Linked DNA regions of Homo sapiens: region 2 is linked to region 1. A link means that fine-mapping ties the variant in region 1 to the expression of a gene that starts in the linked region. Tissue or cell type: cerebellar hemisphere. Region 1 holds a variant in brackets; the other region holds the start of a gene. All regions are shown on one strand. Distances are between the middles of the regions.

Region 1 (8,182 bases):
ACACTACCAACTGGGAAGGCCAACAGAACCCCACATTCTACTCCAAAGACCCTGGAACGAAGGCACAGTAAATCCACTTATTTAGCTCACTCTGATTCCGCCTCCCCCAGCCGAACTCCACCCTCACCTCAGGCACGGCCAAAACTTTGGAAATTGTTTCACTGATGCTCCAGTGTCCCCAACTACCTTTGATTTCATCAACTGCTTCCAGCCTTCTGTACAACATCCTGCCTACTTCCTTTGCCTCCCTCTAGCACCTTCAACTCTTCTACTCAGGGCCCATAAAACTAAGTGCCAGGATTGGTCTCACCTAGCAGCCTCCCAACACAAAGACCTAACAGGAAATGGCCACCTCATGGTCTTCTGCCGTTTGGTGTGAGGACAGGCACCATGGTACAACTTGAATTTTTGTTTTTATAATTTGGGTCTGTGATTAGCTATCCTTTACCACTTTTTTGGAAATGATTTTTTAAAATAAAGAAAACCCAGAAGGGAAAGCATCAGGATAAATAGCTAATGCACCCTGGGCTTAATACCTAGGTGATGGGTGGATGGGTGCAGGAAACCACCATGGCACATGTTTATCTATGTAACAAACCTGCACGTCCTGCACAGGTATCCCAGAACTTAAAATTAAATTGGAAAAACAAAAACAAAAACACAAAAACTCCAGCCTGGACAACATCTCTAAAAAATTTTTTTTTAATTAGCTGGGTACAGTGGCTCATGCCTATAGTCCCAGCTACTTGGGAAGCTGAGGCAAGAGGATCACTTGAGCACAGGAGTTTGAGGTTACAGTGAGCTAGGACTGCACCACTGCACTCTAGCCTGGGTGAGACCCTGACTCAAAAAAGAATTTAATTTTTTTTTAAAAGAACAAAACCCCTGAGGCTTAGCTGCCCAGTGAGGGCAATGTGTAATTCAGCAGGTCCTCCTGTTGCTCCTTCCCAATCAACATGTCATGTTGCAACACACTGGCTGCCTCCCACCCGTTAGCAACTGTTTTGACCACTATGGTAAAATCATCATGATGGAGGCTGGCTGGAGTCTGCATGGAATGTAGTTAAAGGATGTTGAAAGACAGAAGCAGGGCCTTGTAGATGACAAGAAGGCAAAGAATGATACTGCCATGACCCCCAGCAAGTTCACAGGTTTATCTGCCTAAAAAACTCACACTCCCATTGAACAACTGCTGCCGTTAACTCAGAATGGTCTATCTCTATCAGCAGAAAGGAACAGACAGACCAAGATAGAAAACCAAGCCCCAAAACGCTGGAATCTCTCGCTTCAAGCTACCCCAGCAAGTAAGTGGACCGACCAGGAGCTAAGCTAGAAAAAAGGAAGAGAATGCAGGATTTGAATAGTCTCTAAGATGTCCCAGCAAACAGCAAAGGATGACTTCTTCCCGAAGGAATGGTACATTGCTTCTCTTGGGAATTTGAGAAGGGGCTGGGAGTGAGCTGTTTAAATAAATATTAAATTTGTCCTCTTTTTGGCAATACCATCACCATTCCTGCAAGATGTTCCAACTCCAGAAGCAGCTTTGCCAAATGCAGGGCTGGAACCACACCAGACACTTCCAGGTTTGCAGCAGACAGTAGCACATATCCCCTCTACTGCTTATAGTAATCTGCCTGGCCTCTATGTGCCACCCTACATTGACCAACAGCACCATTTCCAGAGCTTGTACAAGGAACGGCAGGTATGTGATATTCCAAAAGCAATGTGCCCCTTAGTTCTGGATTTGAGCTCTATATGGGCAGATCTGAGTTCGAACGTCAGCGGCACTAGGTAAGACTGCAGTATGTGTGGCAGGCAAAATTCTTAGATGGTAATCCACGATTCCCAGCCCCTGGTTATTTAAACACAAATCTAGTATTGCTGTTGTCAGTTGACCTTAAGATAGGGAGATAATCCAGGTAGGACTATTGTGCTATGAGTCATTTTTAAGCAATGTTTTCTCCAGCTGGTATCAAACGGAAGGTGAATCCAAAGTACCAGGATTCCATGCACCATTGCCAGCTTGAAGGTAGGGGAGACCAAGTGAACAGAAATACGGACAGTGCCTGTCTATATGCTAAGAGTTGTCCACAGCTCACAGCCAGCAAGAAAAATGGGAAGAAAACAGGTGACTTCAGTCCTACAACCCTGAATTCTGTCGACAACCTGAATGAGCTGGAAGCACATTCTTTCCCAGAGCCTTCAGATGAGAGCTGAGCCCAGCCCAGGTGACACACACCCTGATATCAGCCTTATGAGACTCTAAGCAGAGAATCCAACCAAGCCCTGCCTGGATATCTGACCTTCAGAACTGTGAAATGATAAAGAGGTATTGTTTTAAGCTACTAAGTTTGTGAGCATTTGTTATATACCAAGAGCATATTACCAATACAGTATGTAAAGCTCTCAGTAGAATGTCATAGTCCAGAATGTCCTGGCCTTCCTCAAGGTTAACTCTCTACCTCCACATCCTCCCACACCCCTAGACATCAAAGCACAGCCTTTCTCTAGCCCCTTTTCACTTAAAAAGCAAAAGGTACCGAGAGGGAGTGATGAGGCAAAGTTCACCCCCGGGGGAGGACACCATTTGGAATTCAAGTAGAAAGAAGTACATCTTTCCCCTTCTACAAACTTCAAGCCTATGCACATATCAAATGCAGACTCTATTAGCTGGCAGGGGAAATCTGCCATGGATCCTGGTATTCCTGCATATTCTTGCTGGGCAGGCTCTTGCCTGGGTTCTTTCTCAAAACTGTGTTTGCAGGAGGCAGTCTTAAGGGATGAAGTAATCTCTGCACGTGAAACAACAGGCTTGCCATGAAATAGGTGGAGTCCCCAAACATAACAAGTTCTTTGGCTATGATGCAAACTTGTAACATGCATAGCATCTACCTGGGCCCCTCCATGTCCACTGTGAGACAGGGGAAACCAATATAAACACGAAGTTCATGCTGCTTGCTATGCTGAGTAAAGTTCTTTATCTCTGACCCAGGATCCTCATGTCTTCTGGTAGCATCAATAAAAAAGTAATAATCTAACTTATTAGCTTGCAAGGGTAAAATCCCAGACCCTGACTCTATTACACTTATTACACTTAGATCCTTAAATGAGGAGATTTAATGTCTTTACATTATACATTTCAAAGGAACAAAACACCCTTTATGAATTTTCTCATGGAGATAGCACTTACATCACAGAGCTATTGTGAAAATAAAATAAGAATGTACAGCACACCTGGAATATAAAAACATCCCAATAACTTACTTGGAGCCCCGCAGCCATCCATCCCTCACATATAAATACAATGAACCAGATGAAGATCCGTGTCCGTGTCCATGACAGCAATCCATTCAGAAGATCAAAGATAAATAGTCTAATACACCAATTTCTGACATTTGCTTAGCACTGCAGGACTCATGAAGAGCTGCCACTCATATTATCTCATTTAATCCCTACAACAAAAACCAAGGCTCAAGGAGGTGAGTCCTTGCAGAAAGAACAGTAACAGACTCCACAGGTTTGCAAAACAGCCATATGACAGAGGGCTGAGGAAGCCTATGATAGTAGGCTGAGGAAGCACAGCTGAACTGCAGCTACGAGACTGTTCTAGCAGCACGACTGTGGCCTGAAGGCACATTCTTCCTCCAGGTAAGGCAAGGGAGCTCTCATGGTGACTGGGCCCCTCCTGGGCAATGGCAATGCCACTGGAGAAACAGCTGGAAACCATATGCTACAGGGATGTCTTTTATTTGTATATTGATATTTCTTCACAGAAAATTAAGCAAGTGGCTATTCTGTCCTGGATTAATCCATTTGGACTTGGTCCCATTGGTGTCCGTGGCAGCTTCTGCTTTGTCTGTAGGCA[T/C]TGGGGCCTTATCTTGTGATGGTTATCACTTGAGGGTCTTGCTAAGGTTGGAGAAACCAATGCCAACACAGGTCATCAGCACTTTATCCCCACCCTTGAGTTCTTCACCACATGGCTTGGTTTCAATTTTAAACATAATCTGGAAAAAGCTCTTCAAATGCCGCAAAAATTCTATCCTAAAAAGGAAAAAAATAAATAAATAAATAAAAAGAAATTCATTCAAAAAAAAATTATCCTCTACCACCTAGAATCCAAGGTTTTAATCTCCCAGACCTAGAGGGCTGAAGTTAAGACCTTCTCATCGAATCTGATTAAATAGTACTTCCTTTCAGCCAGCCAGTTTCCAAAGAAGATTTAGATAGTTTGCAGAGATACACGCAATACAGCAAGATAAATTAAACTGGGGGGGGAAAGGTTAGAAGTTCGTACGTGACACATAAGTTATTTAGTTCAGACCTAGCAGAAAATGGACAGAAATATGGTGATGACTCTTTTTTTTATAAGAGATGGGGTCTCACTATGTTGCCCAAACTGGCCTCAAGCTCCTGGGCTCAAGCAATCCTCCACCTCAGCCTCCTGACTACCTGGGACTATGGGTGTCCCAATGTACCTGGCTTAGGCAATGATTTTTGAGTGGCCTATACAAAGACAGAAACACCTATTTCCATGATTCACAGCACCATGACATTCAAAACAAGCACAATGACTACTGATGCTGAAACAGACAAGTCCCTCCCTTCATTCTCCAATAATACCCTCGCATTTACTTAATATGTATCAAGTGCCTACTGTATGCTAGGCACTGTTCTTGGTGCTGGGAATATTGCACTCAAATGAAAAAAAATAAAAATAAAAATCCTTCCCTCAGGAGGATTTCAATCTAGTGGTATAGATAGAGACTAGATAAATAAATTAATTTTATTCCTGAAAAGTGCTATGTAATGTAAACAAAGCAAACAACACAGACGGGGAAGAACTGTGGGTATGACAGTATTTGTACATATTTGGCAGAAGGCAATATTAAATAAGGTGGCCGGGGAAGTGTGCACAGTAAACACAACAAGGACAATGGCATCACAGGGCGATGGCATCAGTCCAAGAGTACCTTGGGAAGAGCAATTCTGTGGATGAACCGCAGTGCAGGTGCACAGGCTTCTAATGGTCTCGCCTGGCAGACCTAGCGTCACCCCAGCTAGCCTGACCATAAGACTCACCTGAACAGTTCATTAAATACACAGGTTCCTGAAGGTTATGGTGAACTTGCAACTGGTAGGAAATGTCCATATGGAAGAGCCCAGAATCACAGTCCACACACAAAGCTGATCCCTCCCTACCCTCCACCAGGCCCTGTACTCCCCAGTTCATAGAGGCCAGAAATCTATGTTGTTAACAAGAATCCCTGGCAAGTCTCATTGGGCAAGGTTAGGGAATACTGGCTTAGTGAAGAATGATGGCTTGCACATCTATAGTGAAGTATTACAAAAACCTCGCACTGTACTGTCTCCCAATCAAACCAGCCAAACTCTCCACTCTGGCCAGATGGTTCTCAATCTCGACTGCACATGGAATAACCTAAGGAGCTTTAAAAACACTGACGCTAAACACATAGATCAATGGAAGAGAATTGAGAGTCAAGAAATAAACCACACAGTTATGGCTAATTTCCTCAATGAGGAAAGCATAATCATTGCAACAAATGATGCTGGAACAACTGGATATCCACAGGTGAAAGAATGAAGCTGGGCCCCTTCCTCACATCACACACAAAACTTAACCCAAAAGAGATCAAAGTCATAGCTGTAAGAGCTAAAACTATAAAGTTCACTAAAGAAAATACAGGAGTAAATATTCATTACCTTGGGCTAGGCAACGGTTTCTTAACCATTTCTTAAATACAACACCAAAAGGATGGCAATAAGAGACAAAATAAATAAATTGGACTTCATCAAAATTAAAATACTTTGTGCATCAAAGTGCACCATCAAGAAAGTAAAAAAACAACCTACAGGATTGGAGAAAAGATCTGCAAGTCATATATCTGATAAAGGTCAGGCATCTCAACTATATAAACAACTCTTACAACTCAATAATAAAAAGACAAATAACCTAATTAAACGATGGGAGAGTACAGGCATGGTACCTCACACCTGTAATCCCAACAGTTTGGGAGGCCAAGGCAGGCAAATTGCTTGGGGCCTGGAATTCAAGACCAGTCTATTACGACCCCCATCTCTACAAAAAAATTGTTTTAAAATTAGCCAGGCATGATGGCAGGAGCCTGTAGTCCTAGCTACTCGAGCTATGATTGCACCACTGCACTCCCACCTGGGCAACAGAGTAAGACTCACTGAAAAAAAAAAAAAAAAAAAGTGGGAGAGCTAAACGGATATTTCCTCACAAATATCCAATAAGGACATGAAAAGATGCTCAACATCACTGGTTATTAGGGAAGTGAAAATCAAAACCACTGTGAAATATCACTTCATATCCAATAGGATGGCTATAATAAAAAGACATACAATAACAAAAGTGTGGGTGAGGAGGCAGAACCACTAGAACCCTCATACACTGCTGGTGGGAATGTAAAACGGTACAGCCGCTGTGGAAAACAACCTGGCAGTTCCTCAAAATGTTAACCGGGGAGTTACCATAGGATACGGTAATTCTACTCTTAGGAATATGTACAAGAGAAATGAAAACATACACCCACACAAAAACTTGCACGCAAATATTCATAATGGCATTATTCACAAGAGTCAAAACGTAGAAGCAACCCAAATGTCTACCAACTGATGAATGCATAAAATGTGGTATATCCATTCAATGGAAGATTTTTTTTTTTCTGCCATAAAAAAGGAACAAAGCACTGATACGTGCTACATCAATGAACCCTGAAAACATTATGCTAAGTGAAAGAATCCAGTCACAAAGGACCAGATAGTGTATGATTCTATCTACACAATATGAAAAAGCCACAACAGGCAAATCTATCACAGAGGCAGAAAGGAGATTCGTGGTTGCCTGGGGCTGGGGAGAGTGGGAAGAATGGGAGGCACTGTGAGCTGGCACAGGGTTTCTTTCTGGGGGTAGTAAAAATGTGCTAAAATTAGATTGTGGCTGTGGTTACACAAGTCTGTGAATACACTAAAAAACCTTTAAACTGTGTACTTAAAATGGGTAAATTGTGTCATATGTGAATTGGTTCTCAATAAAGCTTTTTAAAATAAAGAAATCAATACATATTTGCCATGCTATAAAACAACTGATCCTGGTTCTCACCCCTACTCGGTGTATACCAAACTACATATAAAGCCTGCCTTGATGAATTTCCCTCCCATCCCCATCCCTCTGTGCTAAGAGCACTGATCTAGTTAAAGGAAGGAAACAGCTACATGGAGAAAAGGGGGCCTGAACAATTCCTGACCCTGTGGCTGAAGTGACCAGCGCATCAGGGGCTAAGAGATGAAACATTAACAACCCTAGAGGGCAGGAGTTCTGGTCAGTGCTGGATGCTCATAGAAAAATCCCCCAATTCCTTGCTTTCCTTCCACCTAGGAATGTGCAACTTCATCTCGACCTTTAAAATAACATCCCATTTGTCAACTTTTCTATGAAGTCTTTCCTAGCCCATAAACCCTACCCCAAACGATCTTTCCCACCCCTCCAGGTTTCCATAGCATTCTCTGCTCATGGTGTCTAATTAAATGCTTATGTATCACTGTCCCCTTCCCCATCATTAAATTATTTAAGTACCTCAACAGCAATGCTTTTCTCCAACACTGAACCCGTTATTCAAACAAGGTACTGTATAAGGTTCTCAGTAAAGAGGCACTGAATAGAATTTAGCCTCAGTAAAGAGGCTCTTCTCCATCACTGAACCCGTTATTCAAACAAGGCACTGTAAAGGTTCTCAGTAAAGAGGCACTGGATAGAATTTAGGAGTTGGGGTAATTTTGAGAAACAATTTTCAACATTCTTGGCAATTAAGGGAAGTCAGCTTTCCCTGCTGGCTTTCCTGTCTTACTAACCAATTAAATTTCTGTTGTCGTTGTTGCTTTCTATCCATCCCACCATCTCCCCCATCCTGTCCTAGGGAAAAAAGAAAACACAGCAAACCACAGATAAACAGTCCACATCTGTGGGCAAAGCTTCCAGCTGGCGGCAACCTGGAAAAAGCCAGCCATCTCACCCACTCTGCATCTGAAGGAGAAAACAGATTGGTCTCTCCTTTGCTGCTGCCTCAAACTAACACAGGCCTGGGGCATGCTCTGCTCCCAGGATGTCACCCAGCCTACTTCACTCTGAATCACTCAACTG
Region 2 (8,182 bases), 68 kb after region 1:
ACAATGGATACACATGGACTTAAACATGGAAATAACAAACATTGGGGACTGGAAAAGGAGGAAGATTGAGGGAGATTGAAAAATTACCTATTGGGTACGATGTTCACTATTTGGATAATGGGTACACCAGAAGCCCAGTCCCCACCAGTAGGCAATATATCCATGTAACAAACATGCACATGTACCCCCGACTCTAAAATAAAATTTCTTTAAAAAAAGAACTGTTTATTTTGCAAACAATGATTTCCGCAGCCACCATCTCAATCCTATCTGTCCAGATCAGGTCCAGAAAACCTGCCTTCCTTCGTAACTTTCAGGGAAGTGTCTGCTCTGAACTCCACTGAGCCCCTGTACAATACTCAATCCTTCCTACTTCAAGTTACTCAAACTTAGTAACATCCTACTTACATGACAAGCTCCATGAGAACAGGGGCAACCAGCTTCTCACATATATTACACTCACCCCCATACAAAGCCTTGCACATACTGTGGCTCAATAAACACTTTCTAAATAAATGTTCCTGAGGCCGAAAGCCTCCCATACTATCCCTACCCTCCAAAGCCCACACCATGAGGGATGTTTTAAGCAAGCACCTTGAAGAGATGTGATTCTTGCATTAGAACTGAAGATTTTATTGGATATGCTCTGAGTTTTTTCCAACTCTGAGAATCTGAGTTAGGAAAAGTCAGAAAGGGACAGATGACGGGCAACATAGGCTTCCGGCTACATCTTCAATCAAGCTACCAAGGACTCCCTTGATTATGACCAGAAATCATGTGTCAGGGACTACATCTATTTATGCGTGCACGTATATGTATATACACTTACATGTATGTGTATACATATACACATATACATGTATATCTGCAAATGCATATCTATCTCTCTGTTCCCTCTGTAAGAAATTAAGCAGACAGGCTGGGCGCAGCGGCTCACACCTGTAATCCCAGCACTCTGGGAGGCCAAGGCAGGCGGATCACCTGAGGTCAGCAGTTTCATACAGCCTGGCCAACATGGTGAAACCCCATCTCTACTAAAAATACTCTACTAAAAATTAGCTGGGCATGGTGGCAGGCACCTGTAATCCCAGCTACGAGGGAGGCTGAGGCAGGAGAATTGCAGGAACCCAGGAGGCGGAGGTTGCAGTGAGCCGAGATCGCACCACGGCACTCCAGCCTGGGAGACAGAGTAAGACTCTGTCTCAAAAAAAAAGAAAGAAATTAAGCAGACAAACATCTACAAGGTTTCTGAGGCCCTGAAGCCAGCGCAAGGATGTACAAATAACTAGGAGTCTCTTTCTTCCCCTGGTATATGAACGGGGTAAGGCAAATAATGCTCTACAGTAATGTTCCCCATAAAATACCAGCACACCTGCCAAGCAGTTCTACCTCCCTCAGGTATCAGCGTCTGACACCCTTTCAAGAAAGTGCCAAGTGGCCAAGCCCTGTTCTTGGAAGAAACGGGAGCTCATATGTGTGAGATGCTTTGAAGAGATGCTCACATACAGTGGAGGGGGAGAAGGAGAAGCATACTTTGGAACATTAAATATTAAATTGGAGGCCACCTGTCAATAGAAAAACTCTAAATAGAACTAGATTCATTTTAGAGAACCCAGGTTTCCAGGCTATACTTCCATTTCTCTGGAAAAAAAAAAAAAAGTTATGCCTACTTTTATACAAAGTAGAAGTCCATCTTCTTACCATATCCAGCTAGTGGCAAGTTCTCTGAGCTAACCTGAGGGTAAAGTGGATGGAGAGCTGGCTGAGAATGCCACACAGCAATCAAGCAAACACTTTGCCCAAGGGTCAAACTAAGTGGAACACTTGTTGACGGAAAAGTCGTGGCATAAACCATTTGTGGTCTCTCCCTAACTTTCTCAGTGTTTTTGAGCAGTAGAGAGAGGACAGGAACCACCAACACAAGTTTTTCCTACCATCACTAGGTTTCTCACCACTGTACCTGGGATATTCTGCTTCTTTCCTTCCTAACCTATCTCCGTCAATAGCATGGCATCTTCTGCCCTTTATGTGCAGCCAATCACCACCCAAGAGAGGCAGAGATCTAACTATCCAAAAAATGCATTCAGACAGATAAAACAAGAGCCAGTGCAAAATGAAACACATCAGCGCCGCTCAGGAAGCTTCCAGGACCAACCACAAACACTCTTTTTCAATTTACAGACAGGTTTTTTCCTTTTTCACCTGACTACTGACTCGCCCAACTTGGGATAACCACCAGTCAGAAGCTTTTAAATGCATGTATCTCATGCCAGGGGGCCAGGTGTAAACCAAGGCCAGTTGAAAACCGGCGCCATTTAATGAGATGTGGGTTTAAATGGGCCTATTTCTTTTTAACCTACCATTGCAGAGCAAGAAGTGAGCTTGGAAGCCTGCAGTTTAGCGATTGTCACCGACCCCTTTTCTAAAGTCAAGGCAATTAGGCCCATGACTGTTAAAAGTCTATCTCAAAGCTCCTGTCCTGCGCACATCAATCACAGTCACGGCTGAAAACAAACACAGAATTTTAAAAATTTCTTTATCCACACCCAAGGACAAGTGTGAGGGCAGCCGAGAAATCATGGCGACAGGAACAGCCGGTGTCCAAGGGGGCAGCTGCTTCTGAGAACTGCTTTGAGACAGGGCAGAGAACCAACCCAAGGTACTTTTCTCTCCCAATGTCTCTCCCCCGGCTCATTCACCATATTTCGGTCCAACAAACTGTTTTTCTCCTTTGAGAGGTTTATGGCGAGGGCAAGAGGGGCCGAAGGGACGCGAAGGGGCGACGCCAGGGATTTGTTGCTACACGTAAAGCTGGAAAACGTGCAGCTGTTTACTACCAGCGCCCCGGAGACGCCGAGCGCAGCTTGCAGCTGAGCGCTCCCCTCGGGCCCCGACCCCGCCTCCCCCACTGTGCCTGCCCCTCCGGCTTTGGAGGCGACGCGCCACCTGCCCTCCCCGACGCGCTCGCCGGACGCCGAGCCGCCCAACCAACACCGCGCGGGCCCCCACGGCATCAGCTCGGTCTCCCCTCAGCCCCCGCGCCCACGCCGCGCGCCGCCCACACCAAGTTACCTCGGAGGCCCGGGTTGTCGTCTCTGGCCCGAATCTTTCGGATTTTGACGGGGCGCCCGCTCAGGGTAGACAGGACCAGACGTTGGCGCAAGAAGTTGCACCCTGCGTAGCTGAGGGAGTGCGCCTGAGTCGCCATGTGCGCGCTCTCCGAAGAGACGTGAGCAGCCCGAGAGCGGCGACTTCGGACAGACGCGGGACTCGTGACTCCGATGGTGGTGGTGGCGGCGACACCGACGGCGGCGGCTCGGGCTGCCTCCAGCAGCCCAGACGCGTCCACGTGGTTTGGAACAGGAAGACGGAGAGACTAGACACCGGGTCAGAGGGGAGCGGGGCGGAGCCAGTGGCCACCTCCCCGCCTCCCCGCCCGACCGGGGCGGCCCCCGCTTCGGGCCACGCCGCTATTGGCCCGCGCCGGATCAGGGCGGTGCCCGCGCCGCGCCTCCATTGGCTTCCGCTGAAGCTGGGCGGTGCCCAAGCCGCGCTGCCATTGGTCCGTAGTGGAGCTGGGCGGTGCCCGGGCCCTGGCAACAGCGCGCGGCTGGAGGGAACGCGGGAGGATGGCCAGGGAACCCCGGCGCGGGAGTTGCCAGTCGGGGCAGTCTCCTCTGTGTACCTCCTGGCGTGGTAGCAAGGGGAGATGGCGGACTGAGATTGATGCCTACGACGTGCCGGATTCTTAGCATTACTACTTACGGCAACTACTGGGGTGAAGATGCTATTATCTACCCCTCCTCTTTCTTACTAAGAGAGACAACAAGGGTTGGTGCACTCACCCTATCGCAGGGATGCCGCTCAGCGCACTGCCGGCGCAGTCCCGCAGCTCCATGCTGTAACCCTGCAAGGTAGAGCCATCCTGTCCTACTCATGGATAAAGGCTCGAGGAATATTGCAAAGCTGACAGTGGCAGCCTATACTGAGACCCGAATCCTCCCACAGCAGGCCGTTGCTTATTTTATTGAGACACCTCTTTGCCCCTTTCTCACGGGTCCCTTCGTTTATCGTCATTGCGTTTCATGGCAATTCAGGCCCTCCTACCTCGCATGCTTCAAGATAGATAGTTGTAATAACTTCACACACACACACGCGCGCAATGCTTTTTCCCTCTTTCCCGTCCTCCTCCAATCCTGCACAAGAAAATCTTCCCAAACGTTGGATTATTTCACTTCTCTACTCAAAAACCTTCCAAAATGTACAGTTAACTAACAAATGACTACACAAGTAGAAGTCCGATATCATAGTAATGTGGGTTTGTAGCCATTCCTGGACAACACTCACCAAACCATGAGTCCCAGAATGCACGGGGGTTCGCGGGGGGAAGGGGGGCGGGGTATGATAGTGTCTGAAAGCGGTGGGAGTTTAAGATTAAGGGATGTAGCTAGCCTTATGTAGACAACAGTGTGTTATAAAGTGGAGTGGAGTGGCATGCTCATGACTCACTGCAGCCTCAACTTCCCGAGTTCTAGTAATCCTCCAACCTCAGCCTCCCCATTAGCTGGAACTACAGGTGTGCACCACCATGCTCAGCTAATTTTTGTATTTTGTATAGACATGGGTTTTTGCCATGTTACCCAGGCTGGTCTCAAACTTCTAACCTCAAGCGATTGGCCCACCTTGGCCTCACAAGTGTGAGCCACCACTCCCAGCCTTTAATCCATTTTTCTTTGATTTTTGTAAATGGCAAGAGATAGAGATCTAGTTTCACTCTTTTGCATATGGATATCCAATTTTCTCAGCATCATTTATTGAAGAGACTGTCCTTTCCCCAGAGTATGTTCTTGGCAACTTTGTCGAAAATGAGTTTACCGTAGCTGTGTGGATTTATCTCTGCGTTCTCCGCTCTGTTCTACTGATCTATGTGTCTGTTTTTATGCCAGTACCATGCCATTTTGTTTACTCTAGCTCTGTAGTATAATTTGAAGTCAGGTAATGTGATTCCTCCAGTTTTGTTCTTTTTGCTTAGGACAGGTTTGGCTATTCTGGGTCTTTTGTGGTTCCATATAATTTTTTTAATTTTTAATTTTTGTAGGTAGATGGTACATGTATATATGAGGTACGGGAGAAGTTTTGATACAGGCATGCAATGTGTGATAATCACATCCTGAAGGATAGGGTACTCATCCCCTCATGCATTTTATTCTTTGTGTTATTATACAAACAAAACAATTATACTGTTTTAGTTATTTTTAAATGAAAATTAAATTATTGTTGACTACAGACACCTTGTTGTGCTATCAAATAGTAGATCTTATTCTTTCTAATTTTTGTACACATTTATTATCCCCACCTGCCCCCCAACATCCCCACCCCCTCTATGTTTTCCAGTCTCTAGTAACCATCCTTCTACTCTCTATTTCCATGAGTTAAATTGTTTTGATTGTTTGATCCCACAAATAGGTGAGAACATGTGATGTTTTTCTTTCTGTGCCTGGCTTATTTCACTTAACATAATGATCTCCAGTTTCATCCATGTTGTTGCAAATGACAGGATTTCATTCTTTTTTATGGCTGAATAATACTATATTGTGTATATGTATCACATTTTCTTTATCCATTCATCTGTTGATGGACACTTTGACTGTTTTCAAATTTTAGCTATTGTGAAGAGTGCTGCAACAAACATGGGAGTGCAGATATTTCTTTGATATGCTGATTTCCTTTCTTTTGGGTATACACGCAGCAGTGGGATTGCTGAATCATATGGTAGCTCTATTTTTAGTTTTTTGAGGCACCTCCAAACTGTTCTCCATAGTGGTTGCACGAATTTACATTCCCACCAACAGTGTACAAGGGTTCCATTTTCTCCACATCCTCACCAGTATTTGTTATCGCCTGTCTTTTGAATATAAGCCATCTTAACTGGGATGAGATGATATCTCAAAATGAGTAGTTTGCAGATATGTTTTCTCACTCTTTGGGTTGTCTCTTCAGTTTGTTGATTGTTTCCTTTGCTGTGCAGAAGCTTTTTAACTTGATATGATCCCATTTTTGCTTTGGTTGCGTATGCTTGTGGGTTATTAATCAAGAAATTTTTGCCTAACCAATGTCCTAGAGATTTTCCCCAATATTTTCTGTAGCCATTTCATAGTTTGAGGTCTTAGATATAAGTCTTTAATCCATTTTGATTTGGTTTTTGTACACGGCAAGAGAAAGCAGTCTAGTTTTACTCTTCTGCATATGGATATCCAGGTCTCCCAGCACCATTTATTGAAGAGATTGTTTTTTCCCCAGTGTATGTTATTGGCACCTTTATTGAAAATGAGTTCACTGTAGGGTTATAGATTTGTTTTTGGGTTCTCTATTCTGTTCCACTGGTCCATTTGTCTGTTTTTATGCGAGTACCATGCCATTTTGGTTACTATAGTATTTTTTTTTAATTTTTCTTTTTTTTTTTTTTTTTTTTTGAGACAGAGTCTCACTCTGTCACCCAGGCTGGAGTGCAGTGGCATGATCTCAGCTCACTGCAACCTCCACCTCCTACGTTCAAGCGATTCTCATGTTTCAGCCTTCTGAGTAGCTGAGATTACAGGCATGCACCAACACATCCAGCTAATTGTAGTATAATTTGAAATCAGGTAATGTGATTCCTCCAGTTTTGTTCTTTTTCTTAGGATAGCTTTGGCTATTCTGGGTCTTTTGTGGTTTTATATAAATTTTAGGATTTTTTTTCTATATCTGTGAAGAATATTATTGGTATTTTAATAGAGACTGCTTTGGGTAGTATGGATATTTTACCAATGTTGATTCTTCCAACCTGTCAACATAAAATACCTTACTATTTTTTGTGGCCTCTTCAAAATCTTACATCAATATTTTATAGTTATCATTGTAGAGATCTTTCACTTCTTAAGTTCATTTCTAGGTATTTTATTTTCTTTTTAGCTATTGTAAATGGGATCACTTTCTTGATTTCTTTTTTGGATTGTTCATTGTTGGCATAGAGAAATACTACTGATTTTTGTGTGTTAATTTTGTATCCTGCAAATTTACTGAATTTGTTTATTAGTTCTAATATTTATTTGGTGGACTTTGGGTTTTTCTAAATATAAAATTATATCATCTAAAAACAAGGAAAATTTTTTCTTCTTTCTTTCCCCTCCCTCCCTCCCGTCCTTCCTTCCTTCCTTCCTTTTCTTTCTTTTCTTTCTTTCTTTTTTCTTTCCCCCCGCCTTTTTTTTTTTTTTTTTTTTTGAGACAGGATCTCACTCGGTCACCCAGGCTGGAGTGCAGTGGCATGATCATGGCTCACTGAAGCCTCAACGCCCCAGGCCCAAGTGATCCTCCCACTTCAGCCTCCCTGGTAGCTGGGACTACAGGCATGTACAGGCATGCTCCATCACACTCAGCTAATTTTTTAATTTTTTTGTAGAGATGATATTTCACTGTGTTGCCCATGCTTGTCTCAAAGCAATCTGCCTGCCTCGGCCTCCCAAAGTTCCGAGATTACAGGCATGAGCCACCCACACCCAAGGGTAATTAAATTTCTTCATTTCCTATTTGAATCCCCTTTATTTCTTTCGCTTGTCCAATTGCTGTAGCTGCAAACTTCCAGTACTATGTTGAATAAGAGTGGTGAAAGTGGGAATCCTTGTCATGTTCTGATCAAAGAAGAAAGGTGGCCAGTGTGGTGGCTCACACTTGTAATCCTAGCACTTTGGGAGGCTAAGGCGGGCAGATCACCTAAGGCTAGGAGTTTGAGACCAGCTTGGCCAACACGGTGAAACTCCATTTGGGTGTGGTAGCATGCACCTGTAATCCCAGCTACTGGTGAGGCTGAGACATGAGAATTGTTTGCATCTGGGAGGCAGAGGTTGCAGCGAGCTGAGATCGCACCACTGTACTCCAGGCTAGGTGACAGAGCAAGACTGTGTCTCAAAAAAAAAAAAAAAGATGAAAGGCTTTCAGTTTTTCCCCATTCAGTATGATATTAGCTGTGGGTATATCATATGTGGCTTTTATTATATTGAGGGATGTCTTTCTATACTCAGTATTGTTAGGGCTTTTATGAGGAAGCGATACTGGATTTTATCAAGTGCTTTTTCAGCATCAATTGAAATGATCATTTGATCATTTTTGTCCTTCATTCTCTTGCTATGATGTATTACATTACTTA

The links. PIP is the estimated chance that this variant, and not a neighbour inherited with it, causes the effect.
Region 2: it holds the start of RCL1, and the variant in region 1 is fine-mapped to the expression of RCL1 in cerebellar hemisphere (GTEx, PIP 0.96). The same link has a PIP of 0.9 or more in tibial nerve.

Annotation. Positions count from the first base shown.
Region 1 is chr9:4,855,984-4,864,165 of GRCh38, reverse strand. It overlaps RCL1 (RNA terminal phosphate cyclase like 1), which reads right to left. Exons shown (of 9, transcript NM_005772.5): 9 at 3,100-4,041. The coding sequence ends at 3,891. It overlaps LOC124902113 (a long non-coding RNA gene), which reads right to left. Exons shown (of 2, transcript XR_007061402.1): 2 at 7,091-8,182. Among named protein-coding and RNA genes, the nearest start is that of MIR101-2, 9.8 kb to the right of the region's middle. The variant T/C (reference allele first, on the strand shown) is at 3,866.
Region 2 is chr9:4,788,118-4,796,299 of GRCh38, reverse strand. It overlaps RCL1 (RNA terminal phosphate cyclase like 1), which reads right to left and starts at 3,356. Exons shown (of 9, transcript NM_005772.5): 1 at 3,073-3,356. The coding sequence starts at 3,208. RefSeq lists enhancers at 2,606-3,105, 3,180-3,229, 4,050-4,099 and a silencer at 3,310-3,669.